Regions from separate parts of the Homo sapiens genome. Here regions 2, 3 and 4 are each reported to be linked to region 1. The links are microRNA targets in miRTarBase. Many come from high-throughput screens and were not tested one by one. Region 1 holds a microRNA gene; each other region holds the end of a gene's coding sequence.
The links. Region 1 holds the annotated microRNA hsa-miR-541-5p (AAAGGAUUCUGCUGUCGGUCCCACU, at 3,897-3,921, shown strand). A microRNA usually pairs through its seed, bases 2 to 8, with sites in the 3' UTR of a target mRNA and lowers its output. Matches are read on the target gene's strand: a 7mer-m8 pairs with bases 2 to 8, a 7mer-A1 pairs with bases 2 to 7 and ends in A, and an 8mer does both.

Region 1 (7,166 bases):
TGTGTTCATTTTATTTATGATGAGTATTACATGGCCAATCTCCTTTCGGTACTCAATTCTTCTTGGGAAACGTCACGAGGGGAAAGCCCAGCCGGCACCTGCGCAGGGTAAGGAAGTGGATCACCTCCGCATGACAGGTGCTCTCTGTGTGACTTACATCACTTGGCTCATATCCCGGCCATCATTAGGAGGAATTCCCCGAAATGATGCTGACGTTTTAGTTGACATGGTGGTCTTCTAGTCGCATCCTTGAAGACTCGTCAGTGAATAAACCACATTTAGTCAACCTTTTTAGGTGTGAAATCATCTTGGCTGTGTGGCACACTTTAGGGAAAGGAACTCCTGGCTGAATGGAAGACATCCACATTACGCCCTCAAATACCTTATCTTCTGGGTGACCTCTGGGAAGCAAGGGGTGAAGGGGGTTTCCTCAGCAGTGAGAATTAATGTTGTTTAAAGACACATTTCCATGGCACGACTCGGTTATTCCTACTGCAAGACGAGAATTGTTAATAGCATTTATTACTACCTTATGTTGCCAGCTGTGTGCCCTTGGAAAATCCCTTCACCTATCAGCTCTCTGGGCCTCAGTCTCTTCCTCTGTAAAGCAGGGTTAACAGCGGAGTGGAAACGTGCTCTTTGTGAAGTGTCTAGACAGCGTCTGGCACGTGGCTGTAGGATAAGCATTGTTTCTGAGGATGGTCATTATATGAATGTTATGTCATCTGCACTCATTGTCCTCTCGCCACTAGAATGGAAGCTCCCTGAGGGCAGAGTCCTTGTCTGTTTTGCCTGGTGCTGTGTCGCCAGATGTGCACAGTAGGTGTGATGCTGAATGAATGAATAGGCAGCGTGACCTGTTTTCTTGGTTGAACTCTCTTTGAGGCCTCCTGGAATGGAGTGCATGGAGTACAGTCACCTGAGCCTGTGCTGTCCCTGTGACGCAGCCCCACCCACCCTCTGAGGATGCTGCGCTGGACGAGGAGTCGCCAGCCTTCAGGTCGGGTCCTCCCTCAAACCCCTGTAGGCTGGACTGAACACGGTCACATGGTTCATTGGCAGCCCCCTTCTCTGTGTGAAATCCTGCTTCAGAGACTTCCAGAGGAGATACCGGCTCTGGAGGTGGACCTTGGTGTTCCAGCCCCTCTAGGGTAGGTGACCAGGGGCTGACTCTAGCTCGGGCTGACCTGTGATGTGTGTGTGCATAGCCTCGCCCCCACTGCCTGCTCCAGGGCTACAGAAGCTGGTCCATGACCAACCATGTTCTGACCACTGCCTGGGGGGCTTCTCGGAGGTAGAGAGAGAGAGAGAGCAAGAGGGGAGAGAGCGAGCCAGCAAGCCAGCGAGCCTGCAGCTGGAGTCAGCAGGGAGGTCCCGCAGGCAATGCCGCCTTTGGTGAAGAGGCATCTCGGTGTGTTCTTGCCCGTGCTGATGTTTGACCCTTGAGCAGAGGTTGCCCTTGGTGAATTCGCTTTATTTATGTTGAATCACACAAAGGCAACTTTTGTTTGAGTATCAAATCCTGCTTGGGATGGCTTCCGGGACCCAGTGGCAAGCTCAGGGGCATCTACACCCCTCCCGTGAGCAAGAATGGACGGGGTAGACGTGGGTGGTCTGCCCTCTGCGGTCCTCTGCGGTGGATGAGAACAGATGTCGCTCAGAGAACACAAGCTTCATTCATGATGGGGGCGGGGCTCGCGGCCCGGGGAGGATGGCGTTGGTGTCGCGTCGGCTTTAGCTCTTACCCTGGACCCTGTCTCTTTACATCACCATTTTGGCTGTGTTGATCCCAAAGACATTTTGACTCCACCATTTTTTTTTCGGAAGGTATTTGACCTCGCGGATACACAAAGAGCTCACACTTGGCAGGGTCTGTGACGAGTCTGCAGCCCCAGACCCCCGTCTAGCTCACAAGCACTGTGCTTCTTTCTGCACCTTTCCTTGTCTCTATCTTTCTCTTTCTATCCCCCAACCAAACATTGTTCCCAATTTTCTCCTGGGTTATGAAACAAATAGAGGCTATCAGTATCTCATCCCATTTGTATTAAATAATACTGATAAAAATAATCAACACAAAATAAAACTAAAAACAGCTGAAACGGCACAGTGCTAAATGTGTTCAGTTGACTACAAATTGGCAGAGGAATCCAATTTTCTTGACAACATTTCAGCTGTGACATTTGACCTGGGGAAATAGCAAGCTGCCGACGTGGCAGCCATGGAAGGAAATTCACGGTGGCGGCGGTGATAAACAGTGATATTTGATGTAGACAAGAACACATTGAGGAATCAAATCTTCATGCAGATTTTTAAATGGAAAAAATTGATCCTAATGAAAATGATTTGGGGAAAATAACAAGGGAAATAAGAGAAATGAAAACAGCTCAACAGCGCGGTCAGGAAAGCTAAACAGGGAATTGGATTAGTATAATGGCATTGGCTCTGAAAAACACGTTTCTATGAATATCAGTGTTGGTACAATTCTTGTGAAGGTGGTTACATTTGTGCGTGTTTACAGTGGAGTTGGTGGGGTCAGTAGGAACCTAGGGTCAAAAAATGGGATACAGTCTCCCCCTTTATGCAGTTGATCTTTTCTTGCTGCCCCAAACCTTCCCGAGAGCTTCCCGGAAAGGTGTGCTGACTTCAGGCGTGACACACTGGTAAGGCGTCCTCCCGGGGATCTGGGTGCATGTTGTCCCCAGAGCATTCATACGTAAGTGACAGGCATCACCTGGTCTCCCTCCATCCCCACGGAGGGTTCTGGGTGAGACGCTGACTCCGGAGGGAAGCAGAAGTTCTACGGTCAGTGGGGTCTGGTCTTTCAGGACAGTTGCTTCTGTGAACTCAGAAAATCTGAGACAGCTCTTAGTTAATTTAGAAAGTTTATTTTGACAAGGTTGAGGATACACCCGTAACACAGCTTCAGGAAGTACTGTGGTCAAGGCACAGCTTGGCTTTATACATTTTAGGGAGACATGAGACATCATTCAGCACATGTAAGAAGTACATTGGTTTTGTCTGCAAAGGTGGGACAACTTGAAGCGAAGGCAGGAAGGAGGGAGCTTCCAGGTCACAGACAGGTGATACACAAATGATTACATTCTTTCGCGTTTCTCATGAGCCTTTCCAAAGGAGGCAAATCAGATACGCATCTGTCTCAGTGAGCAGAGGGATGACTTTGAATGGAATGAGAGGCAGGTTTATCCTGAGCAGCTTCCAGCTTGAGTTTTCCTTAGTGATTTTAGGGGCCCGAGATAACTTTCCTTTCACACTTCCAAGGCTATTGATGAACACACAGGCATCCAGGAACATTCTGGGGTTCAGTCCTTCCTCAGACTCTGCTGTTGATACCTTACATGGTTCCATGCTGGCCCCAAGGACGTGCCCTTCGTTGGTGCCGAATGTCATTTGGTCATAGAGGCTGAAAGTCATTCTGGAGTTGATGTTTCCAAGGTCAAAAACCTTGCTGGGGCTGTGGAAAGAGCTCGTTGTTTGCTGGCCTGCTTTGTTGGTGACCAGCATTGCACATGGCTTTCTTTTCAGATCAAACCCTACCTGGAGAATTTCCAGAAGCAACAGCACCCTCAGGAGGCGGCCTGCAGCCGGAGCCCTCTCCAGGGCAGGTGCCTGAGGGCCGCCCATGGGACAGGCCCGATTGTACCCACGGTGCATGTCATCTGTTCCACTCCTGCTGACTCCGGTGCGTTCCGGGACCACCTTGGGAGGTGATGCCTGCCCCAGGAAGGAGGCTCTGATGCAGGTCAGTGCCCATGGCTCCTGAAGGGAAGTCGTCTGTGACATCTTTTCTTTCTTTACAGCAGGCCTCGCATGGCTGGCCTCTTGCTCCACTTGTAGCAAGGCGCAGAGGGCTCTCTGAGCTCATGCCAACGTCAGGGAAAGGATTCTGCTGTCGGTCCCACTCCAAAGTTCACAGAATGGGTGGTGGGCACAGAATCTGGACTCTGCTTGTGGCATCCATCGTCTGGCCCGATGCTTGCTGGCTGCCCGCTCCAGGAGGCACCTTCTGGGTGTTCTCTGAGTCTGGGGAAGGTTGGGTTCTGAGGTCAGGGCTGCCCTGACCCTTGTGAAGAGAAGACATCTGTGACTCACCTGCTTTCTTCTGCTGCATTTATCCCCCCAGTCCCTTATTTTGAATGTCTCACTTGCTTTATGAGGCTAATCAGATGGTCAGCCAGCTGTTGATAACTGTGAAGTTACTCTTTGAGGGATCCTGGGGTGATGCCTCTGTGGGCTGGAGATGGTGCTGGTGAGACCGCAGGTCTGGGGTCAGCGTTGTGCCCCGTTGAGCTCCCGCCAAAGGAATCCTCTGCTGGGAGGGAGGCTCTGTGCTTGTGCAGGGGTCCCTACAGGGTCACCCCCTCTCAGGGTCTGGGAATGAAAAGCGGGTGCGAGCAGGGTTTCATTTTCATCTTTAGCAAGGTGCCCAAGGAAGGTTGCCGTCTTTTCAGTATAAGATCCTACCTGGGTCTTGCACTCAACTTCTGGGAAGAGTCTCTAGATTCATTCTGGAAGGGGTTGGAATCGTTGGACTTGGTGATTGGGAACGTCCTTGGAGAGTGTGAGGCTCTGGGCTCTGAATGCCCAGACCTTGTGCTGCCCTTGGGGGAGGGTCTTCTGCAAGCACAGCCGCCTGCAAGCATTCACCTTAGTCCGAGCATCTGAGCCTCTCCATGGTACTCGGGGAGAGGTTACCCGAGCAACTTTGCATCTGGACGACGAATGTTGCTCGGTGAACCCCTTTTCGGTATCAAATTCCACCAGGGAGGCCGTCTTGGAGGCTGGGGCACCTCGGGGAAGGACGCCGGCATCAGCACCATTCTGGGGTACGGGGATGGATGGTCGACCAGTTGGAAAGTAATTGTTTCTAATGTACTTCACCTGGTCCACTAGCCGTCCGTATCCGCTGCAGCCTGTGGGGCCTGCGGGCCGGGGAGCCGATCGCGCTTCAGCTCAGCGCCTTTCCTGGTACTTGAAGGGAGATCGACCGTGTTATATTCGCTTTATTGACTTCGAATAATACATGGTTGATCTTTTCTCAGTATCAAATCTCACCTTGGAGGACCCGTTGGAGATGAAGCCCTTTTGAGGGTAGGAGCAGGACGGGTGCTTTGGAGTCGCTGCCTCAGTGGGGCCTGGTCACCGAGAGTGGGCCGGGCAGGGGTCTCTTTCCTGTCTCTGTGTCTTCTCACCTTTGATGTCCCATCCGTCCTCAGGACTGCTTCCCGGGGGCAGCGCTGGCACCACGGGACGCGGCAGCCACGTTCTTGAGCCGATGGCACTCTGGGTACCTGAGAAGAGGTTGTCTGTGATGAGTTCGCTTTTATTAATGACGAATATAACACAGATGGCCTGTTTTCAGTACCGCTACCGCCCGGTGGTGTGCGGGCGCCACGCCTGAGGCGGGACTTTCCAGGGTACGTGAATGCATGGGCTGGTGTGACATTTGTCATCCTTTCCCCTGACCCCCGCCATTGAATCATTTTGGGAGAGCTTTCGGGGGGCCATGTGGACTTTGGGGAAGATGCTAGGGTTGTGCACTGTGGTGGGGGGCGGTCATGAAGCTGATGAGCAATGGTGACGGGGCTCAGTCTGTTTTTCATGGCCAGTGTCATCGAGGCAGAGGACACGGGGGAGCTAGTCCCGCTGGAAGGCATCCTGCTGGAAGGCCACCCACCCCTCGCCAGGATGTTGGGGGCGGCTGCATGCATTCCCTGCACCTGGGCTGCCTTCTGCTCATCTCAGTGCTGTGAGACCCTGGGTGGGAGCTGGTGCCTTGGGTGGCCGTGTGCGTGTGCTGCTCCTTGTGGTGCCTGAGGAGAGGTGGCCTGTGTTGCATTCACAGAAATCATGACACACAAGACACGAGCGGCCTCTCTTCAGTATCAGATCCCACCTGCATGATTCCTGCACCTGCTGATGTCGGGGAGGTCCGGTTGCGCGCCCTGTGGGCCCCCAGAGGCATGGCTGGTGGCCGAGCACGCGCTTGACTTCCACCTGCAGCCCTGTGCTGGCCTCCATCCTGGAGGCGGGTGGGTGGCAGGGCCCTTCCCTGTGGAAGAAGCCTCCTCCCTGGAGTCAGTGCTGCTCAGTGGTACCTGAAATAGGTTGCCTGTGAGGTGTTCACTTTCTATATGATGAATATTATACAGTCAACCTCTTTCCGATATCGAATCCCACCTTGGATGCCTTCCTCTTTGCTGTCAACTCCAGGCAGCAGCTGGCTCTGCGCTGGTTGACCCTGTGGACTTTGTGTAGGACCTGTGTCACTTGGCCTGTTAATTTTCCAGCTCCACTCTGTTCTGGGGGGCTTTGGAAGTGTGACAGAATGGCATCCCCAATTCCAGTGTCAGCGGGAGCACCCGCCATGCCCTTGCTTCCGGTTGGCACATCCCCCAGGCTGGGCTGGCTCTCAGCTACCCGATGCTTATGTCATATTTGCACCCCTGGCCTGCCCAGACTACAGGAAGATGACCAGAGGCCTGTTTGCAGCTGACCTGGAGACTTAGTGACTCCAGAACATGCTGCCCATGCCCAGGGTCCAGGGCTGAAGGCAAGGAGCACCTCAGGAGTGACCCCAAAGAATGAGCTAAGGCTGTCCTTTATCACTCATTGTTGATCAGTGAGCTCCTGGGCTCGGGAGATCTTCCTGAGCTGGGCTCCCGTCATCCCCTAGTTGAGACGTCGCTGCCTTGGAAGTCACAGCCTGTGCCTGCCCTCCCCCTTGTCCTCCTCCTCGGGACCGCTCCTCTCCATGCCTAGCATGGGAGTGGGGATCCCTGGCACCATCCCTCTGGGCTGCCTGCTCCCACTCTCCCTCAGCACCCCTCTTCCCCAGCCCCTGGGCCACAGCCCTGCTGGAGAGGCCGCCCCACAGGCTAGGTCCCTCCAGCCTGTGGCACTTGGGTCTCCCTCCAGTGCCCCTCCCTCTGCCAGGGAGAGCATTTCCAAGTGCAGAGTCCAGCTGTTTAACTCCGCTGCCCAGGGCACCTCTGCAGGCCCCTTCCCTTGGGCTTGGTACCAAAATGATCCGAGGACCCCCCAGGCCCTCAGAGTGGCAGCCCCCCTCTTCTTTTGGAGCCACAGCCTATCCCCCACGTGTTTTCATCCTTCATTCTGGCCTTGCACATGCCCCTCCTTCCGGAGCT
Region 2 (7,166 bases), not on the chromosome of region 1:
TAGTGAAAAAAAAAAAAAAAAAAAGGTCCTCAGATGATTCAATGATGCCTCTAGTTTCATAGATTTATTTATCCTGCCCTTTGGTTCTGAAGAGAGCCTTAGTGCTATCCCTGAGCAGTGACAGGCTATCAAAAACTGCCGACTCAGATTCAGATGCAACTGAATTTCTTCCTGAAGCTTTGCAGATATTATTTACCTTCAATTTTCCCTGAAATAAATAGAAAAATAAGGACTCCTGTTTTTTCCCTTGAGAGCTCAAGATGAAGAAATACATAGCAAAGATATGGCAGGAAAGCATGGGCCAGGAAAGGTAAAGAAAAGAATAGGAGAAAAGAGATAAGGCTTAAAATATGTTTATAGTCTCTTCTCTCCCATTCCTTTTGGCATCCAATCCCATAATGACCAACCACAGAATGTACTTCATGCTTTAAACCTTTGGCACTATAGCTTCAGGGTCCTCTTAGGTGACCAAAAATAATCTGAAAAGAAAATTAATTTAAGAGATCGATTAACTACTGGAAAAAGTTTAATAGACACTGAAGAACTAGACTTCGAAAATTAACTGGTCCTAGTTCAGGGATGGAGGAAAGTAGTAATGCAGGGTGACCTCAGCCAACATAGGTCTACAGGTCTACTTTATGGAAGCCTGAATCTCTCAAGACAGAAAGGGATGCTGAGTCTAAGCAAGGCAGATAAAGCATGTTGTATGCCTATGGCCTCTATGCCAAGACCAGGGAACATCCTATTATCCACGGTCTGACAAGATTAGAATGTTATGCTCTGCAGAGGCAGCAGGCTGGGGGTGGGGGAGAGTATGGCACAAAACTGAATATTAAAAAAAAAAAAAACTGAACAGGCAAGCTATAGTAGTTTGTGAGCTAAAGAAAGAAGTATAAACTGCTCTTGGCCCTGATGTCCCTGTTGGTGACCAGATGGTATGTGTGTCTGTGGTAATATACTGGGATTTTCAGGTCTGCTGGGACAAAAGATAAAACCCAATACATTATTTCATGTAAAACATATTCGTAGGAGGGACAGATGGAAAAAAAATGGAGAAAGTAAAAGAAAATAGGAAATTCCAGAGTCAAGTGATGTTACGGGGTTTTAAGAAGAGAAGAAATTAATTGTTCTGGATTTAAAGGCTTCACATACAGAGAAACATCTCCTTCCATATCTGTGCAATTATCTTCTACATCATCCTGCCTAAGAAAAACAGAGCATATAAAAAAAAAATCAGTGTCTCTGGAAATGTTTACTCCATTGTTATCACCGTTATGATCACTCCAGAGCCTCTCACTTGAACGGCTGGCTTAAAAGGTTGCAATGAAGTCCAAGGAGACTAGTTAACATAAAGTAACACCAGCAAGCAGAGAATGGACAAGGTGGCAGGGAGAGGGAGCAGCAAGAGAGACAGACAGAGAGAGAGAGAGAGGGAGAGAGAGAGAGCCCACATAAAACAGCAACAGAATAATTTCCAAAAGACCAGATATAAATTCTTTCCTCCAACCAAAAGTCAATCATTTTCTTCTGTGTGTAAAATAGCACACATTCTTATTCACCACAGCTGTAAGCTTAAGGCCATTCACTCACTACTCTGCTGTAGTCCTATGACACTAGCTATATCATGGCCAACTTACTGCCCCACTTCTGTTTCCAGAAGTCACACACACTAGAGTCAGTTTCATTTCTTTGTAGTTACCCTTTTTGCAACTACAGGGCTATTACAAAGTCACCTGAGGCCACTACTTTAAACAGAAACATAGTACTACAAAGCCCTAGAATCTAAGACAGCCCCCCAATCTGAGGGTCATCTCAGTCCTTGACACTCCTTTCTTTGTTAATTCCACAAGAAGAAGAAATTATAGAGCTGGCACCAATGGTGGCTTCAGCACCAATAGTAAAGGGCTGGAGGCAATTGTAAACATCACCTCCACAATGAAGGTAACCTTATTACTCATCACATTCAAAGTGCAGCCCTAAAGAAAATAATCACTTCTTATTCCTTTTCTTGTATTTTTTTCTTGGCCACTCATTTTCAGCTGAGTGAAGTATTCTACTATGTGAAAATGATTACTAGAAGGAGGTGTTAGGAGAGAGAATGTTTATAAGATATCTTAGTAAGAAATGTATACTTTTGCCTTTGGGAAACAAAGGACAACTTTGTTGCTGTGTCAAACTACTTAATACTCATACAAATAAAAATATGGCTAGGTACCGTGGCTCACACCTGGAATCCCAGAGTCCCGGGAGGCCAACCCAAGAGGATCACTTGAGGCCAGGAGTTTAAGACCAGCCTGGACAACATAGCAACACCTTGTTTCTACAAAAAAAAAATAAATAAAATAAATATTAGCCAGGCATGGTGGCACATGCCTGTTGTCCCAGCTATTAGAGACTGAGGGGAAATAATTGCTTGAACCAAGGAATTTGAGGTTTCAATGAGCTATGATTGCACCACTGTACTCCAACCCGGGCAACAGAGCTAGACCTCAACTCAAAAAATAAAAAAATAAATCACACGGAGAATTTAAGGAATCTCTGGGCTAATAATTTCTCTGCTCCAAAAACAACATTTGGGCCATTGCTCCAGTGGTCAGTTCCCTTCAGTCCCACAAGAAGCTTCCTAATTAGCACCAAGGGAGAGGTTGTGACACAGGCAAGTGGACGAAGCTCCCTGAGAGTAAAGGACATTGCTTTTCATTACCTATGAAATGTAGAGCACACAGAAGCTCAGGGATATGATAAAATATAAGCAGGAAACAATTACGTCAGCATTAACAACTAAATGAAATGTTAGCCTAGATACAATCTACAAGGAGACGAACACTCGAGCACAACAAGAAAATACTGTGTGACATTTGCTCAGTTTGGATTCCATCAAAAACATACATGTTCAGTCTAATAAAAGTTCATTATAAAATCTGAGAGCCAAAAAAATATAAAATTCTAAATTAAATAACAACTGACTAAACAACGAATGAAGGCAAAAAATAAACTAGATATCAACTGAGTGATGACTATGCTTATAGTTCAAGAAAAAAGTTACAGAAGCAAAAGCAGAATTTATGGGAAAATAAAACTAAACCAAAGGTGTTACTTCAAAAATGAGTAATAAAATGGATCCTGAAATTATTTGATGAAAAACTGCTGAGAATTGAATAGATTTGAGACAATCTGTTATCTTGCAAACTCAATCTTTACTCGGTTGCTACTAGTTCTAGGATTTTATTAAAACAGAAAATAGCAACGAAATGACCATAATACCACTGCCCCAAATGCACGGTTTTTCAATCTCAATCTATATAAAAATGTCAGAAAGACTAAGGGGACATATTATTGTTTACTGTAATCAGTTCCAGTGAAAACTTACCATTTCTTCAGGATATAAATAAACTAAAAAACATATTTTGGAATGCAGAGATCTATTTTACTTTATTTATAATGCCAAAAAGTTGTCAATCAATACCTGATTAGTTAGAGGTAGAAAGGTAATCATTCTGATTGTCTTCAAAAACACAAAGTTTCTTTGTGTTTGCTCAAACAACTACACTTTGCAGTCTGTCCCAATGAAATCAAACTGGACTTCTCAATCCACCACTGCAAATTGGTTATTCACTCAACCTATACATTCATCATTGTATTCTGCTTCATGATAGCTATTTCATTTTACATTTTACATAAAATTTAAAAAAATGACTGCAATTTATAAAAATGAAAAGGTAAATTGTAGAAATACACCTTTTTGACCAGCAAAATTTTACTAAACAATCTCAGCAAATTTCGTAATTCATCTTTCAATATCACAGTCTTTTAATGTCAATGAAAACAATAATTTATGAATTAAAACATCTTTTTAAACCTGACAGGAAAATATATAAGCACAATTTCTGGATAAAGAAAATGAGGTGCAGTTCTCAGGGCTTTAGTACTTCATTTTAAACAGTAAACACAGTACCAACCATCGTTTTGATTCCAGTGAATAAAAAGTTAAGATTAAATTTATTAATCAACTTTGAAGTCTGAAACCGAAATGATCCTTTAACAGCATTGCCAAATAAACAGGTCAGTTCTACAAAGCTAATCATAATGCCAAATTTTGACCAAATGATAAAGTGGCTCTGTTACCATAGTACCAGAGTCTGTCTTTTTGTTGGGTTTCTGTTTGCCATAACAACCAAGGATTGAATTACATTTAAGCAGAAGTATACAAGGCTTGATGAAATTGAATATGAGGGATTAAGCATTTTTAAAGTATGGGTTATAATTCCTTTTGCAACACAAGTTCTACTGCATAATTTGCACTGGCCTAAAAACTTTTTAGCAACAAAATGTATTTTAAAAATATCATCATCCCTACATGTCACATTAACTGTAGACCACTTCAGCTCTTTATTAACATAGAAAAGTATAACTTTTCCCTGAAAAACTGTAAATAGCGACCATATTTCAATCACAGCTGTCCTGAACTACTCTCATTATCAGCAGGACTTTATGGTGTCACCTCTTTATTCTAACAGTAAAAATGGTGACAATGATATTCAAGAAGAAGGTTGGAGAACCTGAATGGAATTAGTGACAAATGGACTTTTTAAACAACCACTGGATTTTTATAGTGTTTTCAGGTGCAAAACATCCATTACATAAGTTAAACAGCTGAGAGGACACAAACTGCCAACTTGCCAAGACTACTTTGTTCCATAGGATTTTGATCCCTTCTAATACAACAATGGCATATAAACTGAGCTATGAAGGATTATGTCCATATAAATGAAAACAAACATCATAAACCTATAGGAAGTTTAAAAGTTTTGTTTTTAAATATTCAAGTGTAATACTTCTGTGAAAGATTAAAACATACATTTCAACTTTATCGGATGTGTCCATTTCCATTTGCCCCTAACTTGCCATTAGTACATAGGTTCACTGGGCTGCCAAATAGCCCAATTAACTGGTCATGAAGAGAGATGATGTTATTAGTTGAAAAAAAGCATGGATACCACGACATTTATCCAAATGGTATGAGACCCATCTTTGCATCCCTGAAGTAAGAATGGCCACTTCTCCAATTAAATTGCTCTACACGAAAGCAGCACTGTCCGTGGAGAGTTACTTCAAATCTATAACATTCCACTACTACAGATACCAATTCAAAACTTTAAAAAAATATATAGACCAAATCCATGTACCCGTGATCCTTTGTAAATCCTAAAATGTAGAAATAATCCTAATTTTAATCAAGAATTATATTGGAATGAACTAAAGACATCTTTTAAAGTAATTTTAAGTGTACTCTTGTTTGTTATTACACTTCTACGTAGATTATATAATATTGCTTGTGGACATAATTTGATCAATAATATATAATGTCAGTCACTACAGTGATCCAGAATCTTATTCTGGCTATGGAGGAAGCTTAATTATTAAGCAACATCTTCCTAAAAAGCTTCTGAATTTCTGATTCATAAGAAAAACAAAACAAATGAAAAGAGTATCTCTAACTGAAATAACACTGAAGTTCGAGCTTGGGCCCCCTCCTTTGTGTTCAACATAATTAACTCTTCAAGATGAAACATTTAGTCACATTAATAAGTTACAGTCATCTTCAGGAAAACTCTGTGGGCAACTCTGGTGTTACAGTTGTGTATCTTGGATCCAACCTGGGGATGAAATCCTGAAAGTGTTTAGATGCACCAGTACCAAAAACATCAAGGACTTTTCGGTTCATGACAGCAAATCTGTAAAACAAAGAATACAGTAAACAAGTATTAATATAGTTTATAAAATAAAATAATTCATTTTAGTTGACTTATCTTATGTGGGATGGGAAAACAGAAAAGGCTAACGTGGCAAAGGATCTAAATTCAATGGCAGATTCAAGTCACATGAAGGCTCTTCTTCGAGATACACTGTCTCATATTTTATTTAAAGAGATAATCCAGTTAGGATTAAGGATTAAAGAGATAATCCCCAGATCTGAAACCGCAGAGATTACAACCATTATTTTAAACCCTTCTAGAATTCTTTCCACTAGACTGTATCAAATAGAAAATTAGGTTCATTATTATTTTTATGATGAATGAATTCACAGGAAACTAAACAATAAATGAGCTAACATTACCAATGAGGCAAAAGCATTAAATGTAATTTCTCTCATAATTGACATCATAATGTCTCACCATCAAATGAAAACACATTCAAATGTGCAAACATTTAATGACTAAAAGGCAAACAGCATATAGGTTTTCAAATGTTTAATAGACACAACACAGTAAAAATATACCCTAACGTTATCCATTACCTAACCTAAGATATATAACATTTTTTAAACACACAAATTTAGCTAATGTACAGGATAGACCTTCTGGGTCTCTGTGCTTATTCACAAGCATTTCCTTTCTGGAGAAAACAGCTGAATGAAATTAGTTTTGAATCACTGGCCAGCATTATTCTGACAGCCTATAAATGTGACTTTCAGTACTTTTCCAAAGTAAGTTCCCTTCCAAAATAATCAATTAGTAAAACTTATTAATGTGCAGAAAACTAAATGACAAAAAATGATTAAACAATAACAATGTAAAGGATCTACAGTGACATGGATAAGAGGGAAAGTTCTGAAGCCAGACTGCCTGGTTTATGTTCCAGCTCCTTCATTTACTAACTGAGTGACTCTGGCAAGCTATCTAACCCCTTTGTACATTTTAGTTTCCTCATATGTAAAACAGGGATAATAACAGAACCTAACTCTTACAGTTAGGATTTAAGGATTAAATGCATATTTATGTATACATGGATATTGTATGTGTGCCTCTTAAAACCATATGTTGGACATTGTCAGCACTATACTAGTATTTGCTATTATTATTAATAATGATAGCAATTCATACATGCAATTTACCCAGCGCTACTATAAGCATCTTAATTTTCCTACAACCATACAATGTATGCATTATTATTTCATTGTAGACCGAAAAAAACTTAGGCTCACGAGGGTAAATAATTTTCCATAGCAACACAGCTGAAGGTAGCAGAGCTGGAATCAAACTTAGGTCTGTCTGACTCCAAAGCCCATGCTCTTTCTATTAGGTCAAAATGCCTCCCAAAGAATTAGATTAAGATCAGGGGAGAAAACAAAACAAAGCAAAAATGATATGTAAGGTAGAGGAACA
Region 3 (7,000 bases), not on the chromosome of region 1:
CTCTATACATGTAAGAAAACAGCTCTTAAAATTTAACCTTTGTTCACCTTATTGTCTCATTTGCCATTCCAATCATCCATTCTTAAAAAAAAATCAGAGTATATCTCTTAATTATTTCTGTAAGGTGAAAATGATTTAGAATGAAGTGGAAGAAAAATTATTAGGGACTCAACCTCACATTGCTAAATTCTGGAGAAATTTCTAGGATCAACAACTCATATCTGTAATCCTGGGCCTCCTGTTAATTCAGCAGCATTGAGTTCACTGAGCCACCTGACCCCAGCACAGGCTCAGGCTGAGCTCTTCAGGTCCTGCCATGAGAGGCCTTGTGCTGCTGGGAACATCACCCAGGAGAAAACCTGCAGCCCTTTATTAGCTATGTGCTTGGGAAGAGAAACCTCCTCAGGTGAGACTGTTTTTCTGAACTTCAGAACCCTGAACACTTAACATCCTATGCCTTAGGAGAAAGCTATGGTCAGGTGCTCACTCAGCTGGAAGTGTGGCCACCATAAGTACATCCATTAGGACTATGAGCAGTACTGGGAGCTGCACACCACTGGCCTTAGAGTTCTTCTCTCACATACAAATGCCTCTTTTGATTATGAATGTTAAAATTTTTGTGCCTTGTTTAATAATTCTGAATAAAGAGGCCTACTAAAATACATACAAAACTAGAGAAATGCTTTGTAGACCCTTTTTGTATTTTGACAGTCACAAGTCCATTGTTGTTGAACGTTTATTGAGCTCTAACAATGTGACAGGTGCCACACAAAACATTAGACACAGTACCTGCCCAGTGGGCTTACAATCTAATCTAAGGACATGAATCTTTTTTTTTTTTTAAAGACAGAGTCTCACTCTGTCACCCAGGCTGGAGTGCAGTGGCACAATCTTGGCTCACTGCAACCTCCACTCCCCGGGTTCAAGCAATTCTCCTGCCTCAGCCTCCCGAGCAGCTGAGATTACAGGCGTCTGCCACCACGCCCGGCTAATTTTTTGTATTTTTTAGTAGAGATGGGGTTTCACTATGTTGGCCAGGCTCGTCTTGAACTCCTGACCTCAGGTGATCCACCCGCCTTGGCCTCCCAAAGTACTGGGATTACAGGCGTGAGCCACTGCGCCCGGCCATGATTCACTTAATGTTGCCATGAGTTTGCTGTTCATGAAAGTGAGGTATTAACTGCACTGGTTAGTGCAGGAAAAGAGCCTACGGAATCACTGACTTTTTACACAGGCTCCCCTATGCAAGTAGGCACAACTGCTCATATTTATTCTCTCAAAGTATGGTTGGCATTTCCCCAAATTTGGTGATTTTGTGATGTGTACAAGTATCTATAAAGACAGAACCACCAAACCCAGATTTCTGAGAACCAGGGATCAAATGTGGCTTCCAGTCCAGAGAAAATGCTTGGTTATATATTCAGAAAAACACTATTATTCAAAACAGGCCCTAAGGAAAAACAGTATGGGAGCCATGCTCCTGCTCAGAGTTCCTAGAATGTCCAGAAAGCACCTCCTCAGGGCAGCCCTGAAAGTGCCCTTTACTCTCAAGGCATTTTGTCCTCAGAGCCCAGAGATGCATATACATTTGCTGGGTTCTGCCTGGGCATCTACCCAGGGGAGTTGTATCTGAGGGCCGAGTCCTCTCAGTGCCTCATGGATCACAATGTAGACAATCCACGTGCTGGTCCTTGGCAATACATCATGCTAATTTAATTTATATCTCCAGAGTAGCAAAAATGTACCACAGGTCTCCAGAATATATCAGGAATTTGTAAAAATGCAGCCCATTAAAATATCTGCCACTGATAAAAAATTCATAAAGATGCTGCTTAAAAAAACTTGTCCTTTTCTTGTCATGGTGAAGTCAAGTAAGTAACACCTTTATCTGTGAAATCACTCAGCAGAATAAATTGGTTTCATATGGAAGAAATGTAAAATAACTTATATGTATTTAAAGCAAATTATCTAGTTCTTCATTCTTGTTACTTCTATGCCTTCTCTATAGTGCAGTCTTTTGTCTCTTTGATCCTGATGAACTGATAATTTACTACTTATTACATTTAGATTCCCAATCCTTTATTCATGTGTATCTTGAATTTCAGCAAGATATGAAAATGCAGACTCCAGGGGTACATTTTGTAATGATACAAGCCTTCTGAGGAAATTTTCTGACAGGAGCTTTTAATCCTGCTGTGGTCTGTTTTACCCTTTCCAATACGGTTTTCCTCTGTGCTTGCGAAAAATATCAAAAAAGACCAATTGGCACATTCTGAATGTGTTTTCTGAATAAGTATATAAGTAGAGAGGGAGGCCATTTTGCAAATGCGGATAATGCTGACATGTCGTACTTCTAAATAAATTATAATTTGATTTAAAAAGGTTGCCTGCATGTACATTTGCCATTTTACAAAGAGCAACCGTACTCCTACCTCCACCCAAGTTGGTAACAACCTTATCTTACAAACAACCCTTAATATTTTAAAAGCTGCAGAAAAAACAAATACATGAATAAATGAATAAACAAAAAACACATAGGGAAAGGGTATGAGCTCTTGCTGCAAGGAGTAGATGAAAGACTGATAAATGAAGCTGAGGTCCCCCCAGTGCTTCCCTTTCAATAGTTTATGCTAAAAATATTTGTTTTTTAAAACTCTGCGCTTTCTTCATTTTTATTGGAACGCAATTTGTGAACCACAACTGAGTCTGTATGCAGGATCTCCAGAACGCAAATCAGAAAAAAATTTGAGATTTTATTCAGATTTTTCTATTAGATTGAGCCACTAATGTTCGGTAAGGGGCACTTGATGGTTAAAAAACACAACTGGCATGATAAAACTACACTAAATAATATCTACTTTATTTGAACAGTCATATCAAGAATGGCCCTAAATTTAATCAAGGACTAAATTTAATGAAAGACTCTGACATTAAAGACTCTGGATTGTTTGAAGGTATTTTGCCTGCAGGTGAGACTGGTTTTGAGGGCACAGAAACGTAGCCTGAATGAACCATTCAGAACTCATCATGCATCCAACTGAACACGTTTCATGCTTACTCAATTTTTTTTTTTTAAATGCAACAGGCTCAGTTTTCTCACATTGGTGCATCTCTTCATGCTAGAACTGCTTATGTCTACAGAGTCCCTGAAGAAGCAAAAATCCTTTTTTTAGCATTAAACATAGCATATGGAGTTCTTCCTCAGCTCTTGGCCTATCGTTGTATCTACAAACCAGAGTTCTTCATAAAAACAAAGGCAGAAGAAAAAGTGGAATAAAAATATTACTTCATGTTCCTCCTTTCTAAATTACTAACTTTTGTTATACTGGTACTGATATTTTGTCCCATTTCACTCTCTTCTCATACGTGAGTACTTAAGAATATGTACATTCTTGCTCTGCACTGTATGTGTGAGCTATATGGTATTGTGTAAATTTTTTTTGAAGGAAAATGGAAATTCTTGAGAAACAGTTTGTTTAAAGAAATATATTCAAAATCATTTGTGAATAAACTTGATCATCCATCTCAATATTGTTTGACATATAAAATAATTATAAGTGTAAAAAATTACAATTTAGTGCCAACAGTAGTGAGCATGAAATGAAACTATTCAAAAGAGAATATGGCCTGTGCATATTAAAAAATTCAAAACAGTGAATGCAGACTGGAGGAGTAACTTTTGCAAATAAGATGAATATGCTTCATTATTAAACTCAATATAAAAGGCAAATCATCAGAATATTTTTAAATGTTGTTTGAAAAATGTTTTCCCAAGGAAAGTTTATTATTTGCTGCTGTTTCAAGAAAATTACTTTTACTAAATTTTTTTGTGTGAATTTAAACAGCTAAATAGGGATCAGTAACTTTATCTCTATCCTTAATGAACATTTGTTTTATTGGTGGCTGGAAATATTTCTATTGTATTTCTGTGTATATTTTTAATAAAATTATTTTTGGCCTCTTATAAAGACAAATCTTATTAAATTTGAAACATTTCATATATACACATAAAACGCTTTTAAAGAAAATTTGTGAGTTGTATATTCCAATTCAAAATGCCATCTACATTCCCCTTATGTTTCAGTGTGAGCAATGAAGAGGTCTTTTGATGAATTAAATTTCATTAATTAAAAAATACATTCAAATATTCAAAATTAAAAAGGACCTTTTAAGGAAGAAGTATTAGATCGACATCCCTACTATCTTTTTATGAACTTTTCATGTTTGGGATTGTATGTTGAGTATACTAGAGAAAATCAGTATTCACTAAATGAAAGAAACACACCAAAAATACAAACAGCCACCTCCTCACTGTGCCCTGGAATGATAAATGGACTGGTGCTTTCATACCCTTAGCTGCCATCATCACCATCATCATTATTAACGGCCCTAGGCTTTTAGGTCTGCTCACATTTTCTCATGTTTTTATTAGCTCTCATCAAGAAAACCAAAAGAAAATGGGATACAAATCAATGCATGGATAATATCAAATTACAAAATCTAGGGTCCACTGGGCTGGTAAATATGTAAGTGTAAGCAAATCATGTAGTCATCTCCCCATCATCCCCTACAGTGTTTTCAAATAATCTAAAACCCAGAGAGTGTTTAAAAAAAAAAAAAGAAAGAAAAAGAAAAACCCTCACCTGCACTTGATTCTATTGTCAGCTTGCTGTGAACAATTTTTGCTTTAATATATGAATTACATTAATACCTCACGTTACATATATGAAGCCAAATTACACTAACTTAGTTTGCTTACAACCTCAAATCTTACTCCCAGTACACATTCCAATAAATTTATTCTGTAAAAACAATACATTTTTTTGTTTTTGATTTTTTTACAGTAAACTTTTCAACTACAAACCGTGAATACGCGAAAGATGTTCCAAGGACAAGCATTAACAGGATTGATAAAACCCAAACTGACTAAATGTGTTCTCACAATATAAGCTGGCATAAAAATAAATAAAATTCTCTATTATCACAATAGCAACAATAATGTACACATAATAATGGTTTAAGGATGAATATTAACTATTCTAATTGTAGTTCCAAAAGAAAACAGTTTATTTTAAAAGTCTACATTTAAAAGTCAATGCTTTGTCTGGTTTCCCATAGGGCTGTTGCTGATTCCAGCTTTAAAATGTAAAGTATCCACCTTGAGTGCTTAGCTCAAAATTGTATTGGCACTGGGAAAAAAATAAATCATTGCCTTTATTTTGGAGTAACACAAAAAGACTCACTAACTTCACATATAGAAACTTAGTTTGTGTACATAACAATATGAATTTTGAGAAGTATAAGCTGTCAACTAGCTATTTCTAATACGGAATAGATATTTTACAATATGGTTAAACTTTACACATGGCCTCAAAACTGAAGGACAATTTTAATTTCGTCTTCAATATACCAACGTTATGTATTTAGGAATTAATTCCTGGGTTCTGTCACAGAGAGGAAATTCCATTCTTAAGCATTATGTTGAGTGGTCATCTAAAAAATGTTAATTTATATTTAACTGAGTGTTTGATGATGGTGGGGTCAAGGCAGGAAAACGATGATCATAACTGCCTTGATAAAAGGATCCTAGACATGTATAAGTCTGCGCAAAAATCTTGATAATCCTTAGTGGTTAAGGGCAACTTCATGCAACCAAATAACATGAAATTAAATCAGTAACTTTTAAAAAAGGCTAAAATGTCTTTTCCCCCCGAAACACAACAGAGAGGAATATGAATAATGTACATACAAACTGGGGTTCTGTCAATGACAACAAGGACTATGTGTTGGTTCATATCAAATCCAAGAATATTAGACAACCAAACATATAACCTTCTTGTGGTTTCTCTTAATATGCAGCATTCATTATGGTAGTTAGGTCTGTAAAAAAAAAAAAAAGAAAGAAAACAAGCCTTTAGATGATTTAGGATACTAACAATGAGAGCTATCCACACCTAGATAGTACATAATTGGGTTTTCTGAAATTTTAATATGCACTGCAGCATTAACAATACTTACTGAGCAAGAGCAGCTTCTGTGGCTTTGCTTTAGACCTGTCAGTGCAAAAAGTTAAAGGAAATCCTAGGGTATTTTTAGTGTCCCATAGAAAAAAATTATAAACCTTGTCTACTGTCTGTTAGGACAGAGTGCAGCAGTGCACATTCTACAATTCTAGGACTATGTTTATTGCTGGAATACATCATCAGTGGAGAAATTGATATAATCTATCTTTGTGAGGACATTCTTCAGAAAGAAAGGTAAGCTGTGTAAAATTTAAAAAGCACTTAGAGTGTGCACCAATTAATCTTCAGAATATTTATAACTTAATTACTTGTGACACATAGCTCAAACAAATGTAGAAGTTAATCATGATGTACAAAGTCTCTGACTTCTTGCTTTTAAAAAAAACATAAAGAATAAGAGGAAGCCTAGATTTCTTTTAAAATTTAGATGGCATCCGTGTGACAAACAGAAAATAAAACATTTGTTTCATAAAAGAATTATGTTTCTATTTGGGTCCCACTTTAAATTGTGTCTGGTTCTATTTCCCCAAAAGGATGCTATTTTTTCCCCCTCATCATTAACCCAAATATATTAAACCCCCTAGTAATACCCTCATGGGATGAATGAAAGAGGGAACTCAGCCCTCAAATATTTTTTCTGAAAACAGCCTGCTTCCACTCTTAATTTCACTAAATGAATGAACATGTTTGTAAGCACATGTGCACACTGATGGGTATGTTCTCATTCAGACAGCCCAACATGTATACTAAATGGTATATATTATAATAAACGATTCCAGGACCTTCAAAGGAGAGAGAGTTACCAAAACTTCCATCCCCCTAAGATGGCAGAAATATACTTTTTATCCTTCTGTCCCTATTAAAATGAGGAAGTAAATCTTTAAAAAAAAAGTTTGAAATTTGTGAACTTAAAAAATGGAGTGCCTGGTGACTCCTAATTATTTCTTAACAAAAACACCAGTTATAAGATTATACTC
Region 4 (7,166 bases), not on the chromosome of region 1:
AATTATTGAATAAGAATCAATTGCTGTAAATTATATACTAATGTCACTTAATGAATGTTAAGTTGCCATTTAAGATGACTCTCTCTTCCATACTTAGATCTAGCTATGTTAATAGTTCATGTTCTCTGAGGAAAAGTGGAAAGAACTGGGTGCTTATACCAGAAAAAAAGAACACATGAAGGGGAATCTTGACTTCCACTTAACAAGTGTCAGCTTTCTTTTCATGGTGGTCATTTTTTTGCTGTCCTGATCTAATTTTAACCGAGGCATACATACCACTCCAAAGAGAGCAAAGTTGAGCGTTCAAAGTTAGAGCAAAACAGACTTTACAACTAAGAAAAAAGGGGAAAGAGTAGGAGTTACTGATTACATGCAATCAATATTTGGTGTAAAATGAATGTGAGTAGTGAGTATAACTTCCCCAATTAATAAGTCAAAATCTAAATGCAGCTATTTTTCTACTTAACTATGAAGCCCATGGTCAGGTATCTCAGGTGTTTTTCAAGCAGCAGCAAAGTTTCAGGCAATCAGAATATAAGAAATTAGAACCAAGATAAATCAGACAGAATCTGTGGCAAGTATAGTCATTAAATATGAAGACAAATGGTCTTAACCATCAAGTAGCACCTGGAAGATTTACTTGCTCACATGAGATGTTTTTGCTCCTTTCAAGACAAGCACTGGAAAAGTATTCAGCGTGATTGCTTCGTTTGAAGATGATGTGGAAATAACATTATACAAACATGGAGGATTATTAAACTTTGTGGCACGAAAATTCTCATAGTATCTACTTACCATAGATACCTTTCATAACTGGTAACTGCAAAGCCTTTTGTGCTGGACCCAGGAATCCTTACCATGGAGCAGCAGATAGTCCCAGTATACTCACTTATCTCATCCATGGATGTAAATGATGATGAATCAACATAGTAACTGAAATGAAATCTTCTTGATTTTAAATAATATACGAATGGTGCTATTAATATTGCTAAAATCAACGTGTGAAGTGTGTTGTGGAAGAGACCTGTAAGTATGGGGGGGGGGCGATATTTTATCAGACCATTTTGTAAATAAAGGCAGAATTTGTGTTGAAGATTCTTATATGAATAACCTTCCTGGATTTGTTTAGTTTTGCACCAATAAAACTGTGTACTACTGTTTGTTGGTTTAAGAGTAGCAGATTGAAATATAAGAAGCCAGATTAGACTCTAAAATTGTGGCCATTGGAATCTCATTTATAAATGGACCTTTTAAGTATATTAATTCCTCTTCAGAATTGAGCTGGACACATTTGGCATTCTTAGTTTGTCATATAACCAGGTTTATCCTTAGTCTAACTGCAAGGGATGGAACCTGCCCCAGGTCACAATCATTCTGTCCAATCCAGCCAAGGTTCCCTCCACATATGAAGATGGACCATGGCAGGATACAACTGATTGTGTGGCACCATGTATTAGCAGTGGGAATATGTATCACATATGATGCAGCCTTTCATATTTCAGCAGTTTGCCACTGTGACTGTCTGGCAAGCCCCCAGATGGCGTTATATTAATTGGATTAGATTATTTTGCTCACCTTATGTAATACTGTAACTTCCTATAACCTAATATTTTCGGTATCATTAACCAAAATTTCACACTCATAGTTGCTAAAGAGAATGTTATTCAATCATTAAACTCTGAACTGATTTCTTCTATACATTTAAATTATCCACCCTCAATAATACGGGTGCTCAACCCTATGCATTTTTTAAGTGTTGCTATTTCTTAATTAAATTGATTTCCTGTCATTTTGAATCATTTATCACCTGCGATGCATGATTCTATTAATTTTGTTATGTTACTGTTTTAACCAAAGCTGACCGTAAGGATAAAACACTTAAGTTGTTGCTGAGTACTATATATCCTCAATATGCATGTCTGCCCATCACATCAAATGTTCTGTCAACAAGATGTTTGGTAATTTTTTTTAAAAAGGTTGGAAAATTAATTATAGAAGGTTCTATACTGTTTTTTTAATTAAGAAACTAAGTCTAGCAGGCTAAAGGTTAATTGTAGTGATTTTTTTTCACATAGATATCTTTCTATGACCTAGTTAGTTACTGCAATTCAGAATTAGTTCACATTGCATAAAGAATTACTTGTTGTAAGCAAAATGCTGAAACTACCAAACCAGTGGATGAAGACCACTAAGAACTTTGCACATAATCATACAATCTTTTGAAAATATTTTGCAAATATGTGTTTAGACAATAAGATGGACTAGAGTTCGACAAAATGATTTCTTTATTTAAATTTTGTATAAGTATTTTCTTCGACACTTTCAAATTATATTGTGTTCTTGATATATGCTGTATATTTATTTGTTAGTGCATGTGTTTTTAATTTACATGAAAACATGAGTTAGGAGAAATTACAGGTTGAAAGATGAAATGCCTGTATGTGCTCTGAAGAAATGGTAATTCCAGATTGTGCAGGGGGAAACAAATCTATTTTGTTTTGTTTTGTTTTTTGAGACGGAGTCTTGCCCTGTGGCTGGGCTGGAGTGCAATGGCGCGATCTTGGCTCACTGCAACCTCCGCCTCCCGGGTTCAGGGGATTCTCCTGCCTCAGCCTCCTGAGTAGCTGGGACTACAAGCATGCACCACCACGCCCAGCTAATTTTTGTAGTTTTAGTAGAGATGGGGTTTCACCATGTTGGCCAGATGATCTGAATCTCTTGACCTCGTGATCCGCCCGCCTTGGCCTCCACAAGTGCTGGGATTACAGGTGTGAGCCACCACACCCGGCCTATATTGTTTTGAAAGCATACTCTATATATAGTTATGGGCAGAGGCACAGGCATCCTCAGCAGCTGATTCAGGAGATGATGGTAAAGCTAGCTAACTATGAATTAAACATTCACATATCCAGTCTACCTGGTCCAGTAATAATACAAGCAAATCTTGTATTTCAGGAACAAATCAAGGTTCTCTTAATTTTTTGGCTTATATACAATGAAGTAAAAACTTGATAAACATGGTTTCAAATTGAGGAGGAGAGTCTTGGATGTATGTTTTAATATGTATACCTTATAATTCTGCCTCTAGCCAAATGCTATGTTTGCAAAATGTGGCATCTGTTAGTTTTTATTGTCTGTGTCTTCTTTGTTTACTATACCTTGGGTAATTTTGTGTTACCAAAAAAAAAAAAAAAAAAAGGAAGTGTAATGTCAGACACACAAGAAAAGCAAATCAGTGTTGTAAGCTTAAAGTACAATTTCAAAGGTCACTACCAACAGCAGGGTTTTTTTTATACTTTGAAAACATTATGCTACATATCATTGCCATTTTCATATTTTGGGGTTTTGCTACTCTTATACAATGGAATCAATGGAAATGTCATCCAGCCACTGAATTGCCATTATTATATCTAAAAAGTTTCTAAGATGACAGTTATCACTATTTTGTTTTATCTCCATGCTGACATTTGAAAGAAGGTACTAGTATCCCTCTAGCCAGATTGCTTAGTTTTTCGTTGGTAATCAAACAACAGTTGTACTAAAGGAAAGTAAAGCTAGGACCTAAATCAGAATCATAGTTGCCTGCATATATGGTAACAAGGTCGTGTGCATTTGCTTTCACAGTGATGAGTGAGAGGATGAGAAGAAATTATTTGACATTTTTCTGTGGTTGAATAGAAGACACCTTTCTTTTGTCTTTAGGTTTAGGAGGAGATACTAAGATACTGGATGTTTATCCTATCTTAGTTTGGTTGGAGTAATAAGAGAGAAGAAGAGGGTGGACTTTGGCTTTTCAGTGTTTTTTCCCCTAAAGAGTGATATTGCTGACGTTTCTATCAATTTTACACATAATATGTGGCTATGAAACCATATATCTCACTTAAGTAACAAAGTAATCACTTTGTCTATCACTAAGTAATAGACAAAAATCATTGTCTATTATTTAAAGCCAACAAAACAGTGTAACAGTTTTAAGTTCAATAATGTTAAGTATTGTATAGAAATATATTGGAGGCAAAGTTCAGTTGATGACAATTGTGTATATGTTACTGATGCTGTAAATTATTTTTAATAAAGAAAATTGTATTATCACATTTGATTCTTGTTCTGTTTTGTAGTAGTTGAAAATAAAACAACATGATGTAAAAAATATGCTGCCATCCGGCTGGGCACGGTGGCTCACGCCTGTAATCCCAGCACTTTGGGAGGCCGAGGCAGGCGGATCACGAGGTCAGGAGATCGAGACCATCCTGGCCAACACAGTGAAACCCTGTCTGTACTAAAAATACAAAAAAATTAGCCGGACATGATGGCGGGCGCCTGTAGTCCCAGCTACTTGGGAGGCTGAGGCAGGAGGATAGCATAAACCCGGGAGGCAGAGTTTGCAGTGAGCAGAGTTCACGCCACTGCACTCCAGCCTGGGCGAAACAGTGAGACTCTGTCTCAAAAAAAAAAAAAAAAAGCAAAAATGAAATGTCCCGCCATCCAGATGCCATCCAGGAGCAGCTGAGGATGCCTGCTCCCTGTGCTGCCCGTTCATTAGTGTTCATGAAACAAGTCATCGGAAGCTGGGAGCCAGGATCCCAGGTGTATTTGTTTGTTCTCGCATTGGTATAAAGAAATGCCTGAGACTGGGTAATTTATTTTAAAAAGAGGTTTAATTGGCTCATGGTTCTGCAGGATGTACAGGAAGCATGATGCTGGCATCTGCTTGGCTTCTGGGGAGGCCTCAGGAAACTTACAATCAAGGTGGAAGATTAAGTGGGAGCAAGCACTTCACGTGGCCAGAGCAGGAGGAACAGAGAGACAGGGGAGGTGCCACACACTTTTAAACAACTAGATCTCAGGAGAACTCACTATTGGGACAACACCAAGGGGGATGGTGTTAAACCATAAGAAACCACCCCCATAATCCAGTCACCTCCCACCAGGCCCCACCTCCAACACTGGGGATTACAATCCGACATGAGATTTGGGCGGGGACACTCATCCAAAAAGACGTATCCTTTCTTCCCACTATTATTAGCAACCTAAAAGAGTAAGGTTTATTTCTTAGAATTCAGTAATCATAAACCATAATTGGCACTTTATTAGAATTTTCTAAGGATTCCAATTTAGTATTCTAAGAAGTTTGCATTACCTAAAGGCTAATACCAACATAGGCACAAGCTGATAGTTTGAATATGCAGTCTAGGAGGAAACTTAAGAGCTTCATCAGTGTAGCATTTAGTTGGTTTACAGTTTTCACTTGATGCTAATTTTGCTTTTTAATTACAAAGTAGCTTCAGATTTACCATTTTGATTTGATGTATGTTGTAAACCTGTGTTCTGTACTTGAAAAATGCATTTATTGCAAAAGCAGATGCATATGTAATTCTCACAAAATTTGCTGGTATAATGACAAGTGTGGCCAGGCGAGGTGGTTCACACTTTGGGAGGCCAAGGCAGGAGGCAGGAGGATCACTTGAAGTCAGGAATTTGACCCCACCCTGGGCAACATAGCAAGACCCTGTTTCTTAAAAAATAATAATAATTAGTTTGGTGTGGTGCTGTGCACCTGTAGTCCCAGCTAGTTGGGAGGCTGAGGCAGGAGGATCGCTTGAGCCTAGGTTGAGGCTGCAGTGAGCTATGATTTATGCCACTGCACTCCAGCCTGGGTGACAGCAAGACCCTGTCTTTTAAATAAGTGTGTTGTCACTGTGAATTTTGTGTTTATGTGGTGTTAGTACTGAATTTTAAGCATTTTTTTCAGTATTTCCCTATCAATATCTATATGATCTGTGGCAGGGTCCCTTTTTATTACCAATATTGGTAATTTGTGTTTTCTTTTTTTTCCTTGATTAGTCTTTCTAAAGGGTTAGAAATTGAGTTAATTTTTTAAAGAGCCAATTTTTTACATTATTTTCTCCATTGTTTTCTGGTTTTTTGTTTGGTTTTGGTTTTGGATTTTTTTTTTTTTTTTTTCTTTTTGAGACGGAATCTGGCTCTGTTGCCCAGGCTGGAGTGCAATGGTGCGATCTCGGCTCACTGCAACCTCCACCTCCCGGGTTCAAGTGATTCTCCTGCCTCAGCCTCCCGAGTAGCTGTGATTACAGGCATGCGCCACCATGTCTGGCTAATTTGTTTTGTATTTTTAGTAGAGACGGGGTTTCACCATGTTGGCCAGGGTGGTCTCAAACTCCTGACCTTGTGATCCGCCCACCGGGGCCTCCCAAAGTGCTGGGATTACAGGCATGAGCCACCGTGCCCGGTTTGTTTTGTTTTATTGGTTTCTGCTCTGAAGTATTTCCTTTCTGTTACTTATTTAATTTCCTCCTTTCCCCCAGCTTTGTAACACTTTTCCTCCAATGTAAATGTAAATATTTAAATTTTCCTCTAAGTGCTGCTTTAGCTGTAGCCCACCGTGGAAACTAAAGCCAATTTTGAGCATTTTAAACAACTTGTAATATATAAAGGAAGTATCATAAAACTGCTGGGATATTGTTTTATGAGACATTGTTTTATAATGTAAAATCATGTCCATAATCTCACTGCAAATTGTTCATTTTGTTTCACTCCAGTTTTGTTTTTTTTTTTTTTTTATCGCTGAGCTCTTTTTTAAAAAAATTATAAAAATAGAGGTGGGGGTCTCACTGTGTTGCCCAGGCTGGTCTTGAACGCCTGGCCTCAATCAGTCCTCCCACCTCAGCCTCCCAGACTGCTGGGATTACAGGCATGAGCCACCATGACCAGCCACTGAGCTATGTTTGAGAGCAACTACTTAAAAGTGCTCCAGTAGCCAACTGAAGAAACGTTAATACAATGACATGACATTTTTCCCCCCTAGAAACGGGTCTCACTATGTGGCCCAGGCTGACCTCGAACTCCTGGGCTCAAGCACTTTTCCTGCCCAAGCCTCCTGGAGTAGCTGGGACTATAGACATGCAACACCATGCCCCGCTTAAAATGACATATCTGGCCGGACACGGTGGCTCACACCTGTAATCCCAGCACTTTGGGATGCCAAGGCGGGCGGATCACGAGGTCAGTTCGAGACCAGCCTGGCCAACATAGTGAAACCCCGTGTCTACTAAAAATACAAAAATTAGCTGGGTATGGTGGCATGTGCCTGTAGTCCCAGCTACTCGGGAGGCTGAGGCGGGAGAATCGCTTGAACCCAGGAGGCG

Region 2: the mRNA of TMEM135 is a reported target of hsa-miR-541-5p. Seed matches in the 3' UTR shown: 7mer-m8 at 4,749-4,755 and 7mer-m8 at 4,177-4,183.
Region 3: the mRNA of HDGFL3 is a reported target of hsa-miR-541-5p. Seed matches in the 3' UTR shown: 7mer-A1 at 5,019-5,025.
Region 4: miRTarBase lists IREB2 as a target of hsa-miR-541-5p. Seed matches in the 3' UTR shown: 8mer at 849-856 and 7mer-A1 at 1,325-1,331.

The regions. Positions count from the first base shown.
Region 1 is chr14:101,060,608-101,067,773 of GRCh38, forward strand. It overlaps MIR541 (microRNA 541), which reads left to right and starts at 3,888; the gene lies at 3,888-3,971. It overlaps MIR496 (microRNA 496), which reads left to right; the gene lies at 1-67. MIR377 (microRNA 377) reads left to right here and starts at 1,443; the gene lies at 1,443-1,511. MIR409 (microRNA 409) reads left to right here and starts at 4,693; the gene lies at 4,693-4,771. It also overlaps MIR412, MIR369, MIR410 and MIR656.
Region 2 is chr11:87,319,770-87,326,935 of GRCh38, reverse strand. It overlaps TMEM135 (transmembrane protein 135), which reads right to left. Exons shown (of 15, transcript NM_022918.4): 15 at 1-5,735. The coding sequence ends at 5,603. It also overlaps the pseudogene LOC100420680. Among named protein-coding and RNA genes, the nearest start is that of TMEM135, 290 kb to the right of the region's middle.
Region 3 is chr15:83,133,396-83,140,395 of GRCh38, forward strand. It overlaps HDGFL3 (HDGF like 3), which reads right to left. Exons shown (of 6, transcript NM_016073.4): 6 at 1-5,880. The coding sequence ends at 5,875. It overlaps TM6SF1 (transmembrane 6 superfamily member 1), which reads left to right. Exons shown (of 10, transcript NM_023003.5): 10 at 3,086-4,013. The coding sequence ends at 3,277. Among named protein-coding and RNA genes, the nearest start is that of TM6SF1, 29 kb to the left of the region's middle.
Region 4 is chr15:78,497,360-78,504,525 of GRCh38, forward strand. IREB2 (iron responsive element binding protein 2) reads left to right here. Exons shown (of 22, transcript NM_004136.4): 22 at 674-4,094. The coding sequence ends at 784. Among named protein-coding and RNA genes, the nearest start is that of HYKK, 6.6 kb to the right of the region's middle.